Homo sapiens: one gene and its partner. The protein of the gene in region 1 interacts with the protein of each later gene in a pairwise test. Each region holds a gene or a part of one and is shown in the gene's direction. Other genes may lie near its edges.

Region 1 (3,745 bases):
AGAAAAGATCGAACAGAATGATCCCAAAGATCCCTTCCCATGCTGACATTCTGATTCCCTCATTCATTCATTCTAATATTAACCAATGCCAGCACTAGGTTCTGGGCATCCCCTGCTGAGCCATTCTAAACCTGCTGGGCACAGCCAAGACCTGTGAGTGTGGCCTCAGGCCTAGTGAGGGCTCATTGTTTCCACAGCCACTGCATGGTCCAGAGTGAGGAAGGAAAGCCCCATCTGCCCCATGAAGCCCACCCTGCCAGGGCCCACCTGCCAGGGGAGGCATTTTCCTGATCCCAGTTCTAGGTTTCATCCTAGAAGAGCCCTCAGTATCTAAAGCCTTTCCTACTTTCAATTTTTAAAAAAGTTGGGAAGTGTAAGACCACCTGCCATCTTCCTAATCAAAACTCATCTTCTGGCTCTTATTCTCCATGGCTTTTACACAACATGTTTTATTCATTTCAAAGTATTTAATTATAATGTTGAGGCCAGGTGTGGTGGCTCATGTCTGTAATCCCAGCACTTTGGGAGGCCAAGGCAGGAAGATCGCTTGAGGCCAGGTGTTCAAGACCAGCCTAGGCAACATAGTGAGACCCTGTCTCAAGAAAAAAAAAAAAGAAAAAAGAAAAATCAAGAAGAAAAAAGAAAGAGTGAGAAAGAAAGAAAGAGGCCAGACGCGGTGGCTCACGCCTGTAACACCAACACTTTGGGAGGCCAAGGCAGGCGGATCGCGAGGTCTGGAGTTCAAGACAAGCCTGGCCAACATAGTGAAACCCCGTCTCTACTAAAATACAAAAAATTAGCCCGGCATGGTGGCGGGCATCTGTAATCCCAGCTGCTTGGAAGGCTGAGGCAGGAGAATTGCTTGAACCCGGGATGCGGAAAGAAAAGAAAAAAAAAGAAAGAAAAGGAAGGAGGGAAAGAAGGAAGGAAGGAAGGAAGGAAAGAAGGAAGGAAAGAAGGAAGGAAGGAAGGAAGGAAGGAAGGAAGGAAGGAAGGAAGGAAGGAAGGAAGGAAGACAAAATATAACATTGAATACACGTTGTTTTTCAAACTGCACATACAACCCACATTTTGACTCAGGCCTCTGGGGCGAGGGGGTACACACACACACACACATCCCAGTCACTGTCCTAGGCTCTCCAGCCATGAGATTTTCCGGCCCAGCCCCAACCCCGACCTAAGTAACCGGCTATCGGCCACCCATTGGCTGAAGTCCCTGAGCACCTGTTGGGAGGAAGGCTGCTGCGTGCAGCCGGAAAGTCCTGCGTCCCTCCGCTCTTACCGCGGCAGGAACCACAGCCTCCCCGAACCTCAGGGTTTGTATGGATTTCGCCCAGGGGAAAGCGCTCCAACGCGCGGTGCAAACGGAAGCCACTGGCTGGTTGGGCGGCTGTGATGGGAGAGCTGCATCCTTCCAACGCGTCCAGCTTTTCATGCTGATGTTGGTGAGAAGGGGGTGGATAGCGGGGATTCTCAGGATTAGGGCCTAGGGCCATTAAAGGCTGGGAGGTGGGGGCGTAAACCTGTGGCCACCCTGACCCCTGTCCTCGGGGGGCCTCACCACCAGGCCGAGGAGACCCAGGCCTGGTCACCTGCTCCAAGCCCAGGCCCGGCGCTCGAATGCGGGCCCCAGCGGCCCTCCCTTCCCGGCCCTTCTCTCCCCTACTTTCTCCTCACCTCCCAGCTGCGCGGAGAACACGCCCCCTCCCCGTGTTCCCACCAATCAGCGTCCGGAGCGGCGCCCGAGGCGCCGGGGGGCTCTGGTCTGCAGCCAATGAGCGCCACGGCTCGAGGCGGCGCCTCGCCCGCCCCCTCCCGGAATGAAGGCCGCCCGACAGCTGGCGAGGCTGGCGCAGCGCGCGGGGCGCGGGAGCCGCGCGGGCTGGAGCGGAGCGCGCACACAGCCAGCCCGCCTCCGCTCCGCCTCCGTCCGGGGCGCGGGCGAGGTGGCCGGGGCGGGGGAACGCAGGGGGCAGGGCCGCGGCGGCGAGGCCGGGGGGCGGGGAGGAGTGGGCCCGATAAAAGGCGGCGCGGCGGCCCCACCCCGCGGCAGGCCGGCGGGCAGGCTCGGCGTGTCCCTTCCGTCCGGCCCGCGCCGGCGGCGGGGAGGCGGCGCGCGGCCCGCAGCCCGCCCATGGAGGCTTTCCCCTGGGCGCCCCGCTCGCCCCGCCGCGGCCGCGCCCCCCCGCCCATGGCGCTCGTGCCCAGCGCCCGCTACGTGAGCGCCCCGGGCCCGGCGCACCCGCAGCCCTTCAGCTCCTGGAACGACTACCTGGGGCTCGCCACGCTCATCACCAAAGCGGTGGACGGCGAGCCGCGCTTCGGCTGCGCCCGCGGTGGGAACGGCGGCGGCGGCTCCCCGCCCTCCTCCTCCTCGTCGTCCTGCTGCTCCCCCCACACGGGGGCCGGGCCTGGGGCGCTGGGGCCGGCGCTGGGGCCGCCCGACTACGACGAGGACGACGACGACGACAGCGACGAGCCGGGGTCCCGGGGCCGCTACCTGGGGAGCGCGCTGGAATTGCGCGCGCTGGAGCTGTGCGCGGGCCCCGCCGAGGCCGGGCTGCTGGAGGAGCGCTTCGCCGAGCTGAGCCCGTTCGCGGGTCGTGCCGCCGCCGTGCTGCTGGGCTGCGCGCCCGCCGCCGCCGCCGCCGCCACCACCACCAGCGAGGCGACGCCGCGCGAGGAGCGGGCCCCGGCGTGGGCGGCCGAGCCCCGGCTGCACGCGGCCTCCGGGGCGGCGGCCGCCCGGCTGCTGAAGCCCGAGCTGCAGGTGTGCGTGTTCTGCCGGAACAACAAGGAGGCGATGGCGCTCTACACCACCCATATCCTCAAGGGCCCCGACGGGCGAGTGCTGTGTCCCGTGCTGCGCCGCTACACGTGTCCCCTGTGCGGCGCCAGCGGCGACAACGCGCACACCATCAAGTACTGCCCGCTCTCCAAAGTGCCGCCGCCGCCCGCCCGCCCGCCGCCCCGCAGCGCCAGGGACGGCCCGCCTGGCAAGAAGCTGCGCTGAAGGCCCGGGCTCCCGGCCGCCCAGGGTCGCCGCCGCCCCTCGCACCGCTAGGTCTGCGCACCATCTCGCCCCCGCCGTGGGGAGGCGTGCGGCTCAGCGGTCGGCTCGACATGGGACGTCGTCCTGGTGGTTTTTGAAAAGCAGCCGACCGTGTGGAGTACTTCCGTGCTGAACGATTGGGACTAGACGCTGAAATCCCCATTTGTCTTCAGTTTCTAGTTTGCACATCCAGAACGGCGAAGGCTGGGTGTGTATTCCACTAACTGAAATATGGCAACTTAGAGGCGCTGTTTATTTACTGTATACGTCGACCTATTTTAGATGCGCATCAGTATGAAATTGTCTCAATCTTGGATGTTTCATTTTATGAATGGAGGCACTTTACTAGGTCTAGAATATTTTTTTAAAAGCCTCTGAACTGAGCTTAAAACTGGCGATTTTATGAAATGTCGGCAAAATGACTATTTTATTGTTTGAAGCGAGTTAATATTCTCAGTTGTCTTTAAAAATCAGTTACTCTAATTCCAGGTGAAGCAAGCCGCTGGTAGCATCACCCTTATGAGAAGTGAAGGTTTTGTAAACTTTCCAGTATTAATTTGGGCGGGTATTCCCCGCTTGTGGCTTGTTTCTGTCCTAGCTGGAGGTGTAAAATGCACAATGTGTAGCAGGTAGAATACAGCTCCTTATCGTTCTATGTACCAGGTATTTTATTACTGAACTAGCAACTAGCCT
Region 2 (3,745 bases), on another chromosome or scaffold:
ATGAGGGGCCCTTTTGTCAAAAACCACTAAGACTTTCTAGATGGTGACATCAGAGCATTAAACCAATCGTAGAATCTTTTTAGGCACCCCCCAGGCCTTGTTCAACTGCACAGGTCACGTGCCTGTGCTGAAGCTGGCCTTGTTCATGGGGATATCTGGAACATTAAATGAGACAATGTATGGAAAGTGCTTTGGTGCTTGCATGTTGTTAGTACCAAACAAATAACTATAGCTTACACGTGGCTTTTAGTAGGACTCTTGGTTGTAACAGAAATTCACTTTATCTAGCTTAAGCAAAGAAGCAGAATTTACCATAAGGATCCAGGAATGCGGCTCAGACTCCAAGGGTAGAGGCAGCCAGCCAGGCACAGAAACATGTGAAAGAGAGACATTGTCAGCACTCTCCTTTTCTCTCTCAACTCCACTCTTTCTCTACAGGTTCCCTGTCTTACAGGATGGAACCAGTCTGCCCAAGGGATCCCAGGTCCAAGAGACTTTCGAGGTTGGGGTCTCTTAGTCCCAATTCCATATTCTAAGGGAGGGCCTGTGATGGATTTATCTAGTTTCACCCACACTAAGCAACTGTATATAAAGACTCTTCTGCTATTATCAGCTCAACGGAGGGGAAAGGAGAAGGAAGGCAAAATGTGTACACCCCAGCATCTCCCATTCTTACTTGATCGTGAGACATTTCTTAAAGGAACATCTATTAACACTGAACACAGCACACTAGGGAAATGCTGTCGTGGGTGATGGGGAGCAATGAGATGGTTGAAGCAGAGGCCTGAGCGCCAGGAATTGGATTTGCATTTTAGATAGCAGTGAGCAGAACTGATTGGAGGGAGTGAGACTGGAGACAGGAAAGCTGATTAAGAGCCAGCTACAGAAATCCAGACCTGGGAAGCAAGGCTAGCATTAGTGAGGAGGCAGAGGAAGACTGTCTCCAGAATTACTTGGGAAGTAAAAATCTGCGAGGCTTGGTAAGTTATTTATATTTGGAGTCGGGGTAAGAGGAAGAGACAAGGATGGTTCTCAGAGGTGTAATTTGGGGAATGAATAGGTGGTGACACTGCCAATTACAGAGACAGTACAAGAGTGGGGGGTAGGGGATGGGTGTGACTTCAGTTTTTAACATGCTTGGTGACAAGAAAATTCAAGTGAAAATATCTAGAAGCCTGAAATATGAGCCTAAGGTAGGGGCTTGGGATGGATTTCAATGTCAGACATTTTTCAGTAATAGTTAAAAACCGAAGAGCCCATGTGTATTCAACAGGCACTTGCGGGCACAGTGTGAAACAAAACACAAGGTCCTTGCCCTCGTGGAGCTCACAGTCGCCTAGGGAAGACATATATTAAGCAAACTATACGGGAGGCCCTGAATATTTACGAAGTGCAGCATGTCAGGAGAGCCAGGAGCTGTGCAAACAAACCATCAAGAACAAATCGGACACGGTGCCTGTTACAGCTGTGTGACCTGGAGCCGGTTAGGTTAGAATCCTGGAATCACCACTGCTTTGCATGGGGGTCCAGGACAGCAAGGCAGATTTGGAGTTTCCAACTAGCCTGTAAACGGGGAAGGAGAGAGCGCTTAGTACGCGAGAAAAAGAAACAGCCAACGAGTGAGAATCACTGGCCCAGCTGGAGAACGACCTGAGTTTCCTTTGTGTGCACCGGGACCAAGCACTGGGGGCCGACAATTTGCTGAGAGCTGGCTCCACCTGCCTGGGGTGCAACCACGAGAAGAGTGACAGCCCTCTCGCAGGGTACAATCTTCCACCCCCAGATGCATCTCCCTCGTCTGGTTGTGGGGAGGTACAGAGTGAAAGTTAAAGGCCTGAATTAACGTCCGGCTCTTGTGGGCGCCAGCACTCTGGAAGCGAAATGCCAGGAGTACCCCACGGTGGGCGGCGCGGGCGCAGACACCCGCACACCCAGTTGGGGGAAAACAGTGAGCAACCGGGTAGGAAGCCGAGGGTAAGAAGATTCAGAAGGCGAGGCCCCACGCGGGAAGACAGTCGAACACAGCGTTTGGCAACAGTACGCCTGCGCTCTCCGAGCCCGCCGCGGCGGAGCCCAGGAGGGAAGCGCGAGCCCGCAAGGTGAGGGCGGGGGAGGGCACGCCGGAGAGGCGGCCAAACACGTGAGAGCGCGGAGAACGTGCGCACGCGCAGGGCGCCCCCGGCCCGCGCGGCGGCAGCGCGGGAGCAGGGACGCAAGGCATTAAAAGGAGCCGCGCCTTGGTGAGCGCTCCCCCTCCCCTTTCTCCCGGGGTGCACTGCGCGCGCCCGGTGGGCGGGGGGGAGGGGAGGGCAGGCGGCGGTGGCAGCCATGTTGTTGTGAGTCTCTGTGTCTCACCCTCGGTACTTCGGTGGTTCGGAGGAGGAGGGGGAGGAGAAGGAGGAGGTGGGGTGGGGGGGGAGGGTGGTAGGTGGAGAAAGAAGACATTGCCGCCACCGAAGGCGGAGGAGGGGGAGGACCGCCAAGAGCGACGCCGCCGTGTGCCCAACGGTCGGTGTCCCCGGCTGAGGCAGCGCGGCCGCAGCAGCCCTGTAAGTCAGTCCGCGTTCGCTCTTTCTCCGGTCCTTTGGCGCCGTCGAGGATGGCTCCCCAGGCTTTGTGCGGCGGCCTCGGCGGGAGCCGATCGCCAGCGGGAGGGCGGATAGGGCCTGCTGAGTGCCCGGGCCGGTGCGGCCTGGGGCCCGCTCGCACAATGCAGGGGGAGGGGTGCCGGAAGGGGGTGTGCGCGTGCGGGGGAGGGGGCGCCGCGCCGGCCGCTTTCCCGCTTCCTTCCCTCTGCGGGGCCGCCGCCTCGGGGGCGTGGGGCGCCGACCCGGTTCTCCCTCCGATTCGGCGCGCTGGAGGTTAGAGACCGAGCTGTCGGCCCTAGGGTTCGGAAAGAGGGGAGAGGCCGGGTGGCCCCAGAGAAGCATGCGGATTGCAAGTGGGTGAAGAGGAAGGAGTGGGTTTATGAAAACAAGTGTGGGCATTTTCAAAGGCCCGAGTGTGTCCGGGAAAAGCTTGCCGTGGACAGATGTGGGTATGAAGCAGTGACTTGGATTCGCCTTGTTTAGGTTATAGGAACGGATTTCGATATTCAGAAAAATATGTAAATTAAAACCAAAGACAAGATTAGCGGCTTCTACTATTTGAGCAGTAGTTTTGTATCTGAATTGGGTCAGGTTTTGGGGAAAATGTTTAAAGTTTCATGCCCAAACACGTGTAAAAGTTAGTGTTGTTTCTGAAAACACAGCCAGAGAAAACCTACTTAACTTAGCTTTTTATTCTAACATACGTAAACTTTTGAAGAGAGGAATGTATTGCCAGCATATTAGGTGCAATAAGACATCATGTTAGGACTTAGTACTTTGAGATTTTTACTTGTTGAGAAAACGGGGCAGATGTTTTGGTGAAGGAAAACATGAGAAAAATGCTTGTAAACGGTGAAGAGAAATGTAATACCTGTAAAGGTACTGTATGTCAAGAAAACAATTTTAATAAAGGGAGTTACCGAAGGATTTTAAAAGCTTGTTTAATGGTTAGATTTCGTGTTTAACAGGTGACTCTTCACCATGTGACCTGGAGTATTGGAAGATGACTTAAGGAATCCTGTAAATAAAAAAAAAAAAACAAAAATGAGTATTTTCAACTTGTTTCTCTTCCTAGCCTCCTTTTAAACAATGATTTACTTCATTTGCTCAATCATTATGAATAAAAATGATGGCATTTTCCGTGCTGCAAGAATTTC

The links. The genes of interacting proteins can lie anywhere in the genome.
Region 2: the proteins of NANOS1 (region 1) and PUM2 interact in a two-hybrid assay, tested with the Homo sapiens proteins (one study listed by BioGRID).

The regions. Positions count from the first base shown.
Region 1 is NC_000010.11:119,027,668-119,031,412, forward strand, and holds the start of NANOS1 (nanos homolog 1), read left to right. Parts: upstream 1-2,046; 5' UTR 2,047-2,134; coding exon 2,135-3,013; 3' UTR 3,014-3,745. UniProt on the Homo sapiens protein: May act as a translational repressor which regulates translation of specific mRNAs by forming a complex with PUM2 that associates with the 3'-UTR of mRNA targets. Capable of interfering with the proadhesive and anti-invasive functions of E-cadherin.
Region 2 is NC_000002.12:20,349,401-20,353,145, reverse strand, and holds the start of PUM2 (pumilio homolog 2), read left to right. Parts: upstream 1-2,301; 5' UTR 2,302-2,549; intron 2,550-3,745. UniProt on the Homo sapiens protein: Sequence-specific RNA-binding protein that acts as a post-transcriptional repressor by binding the 3'-UTR of mRNA targets.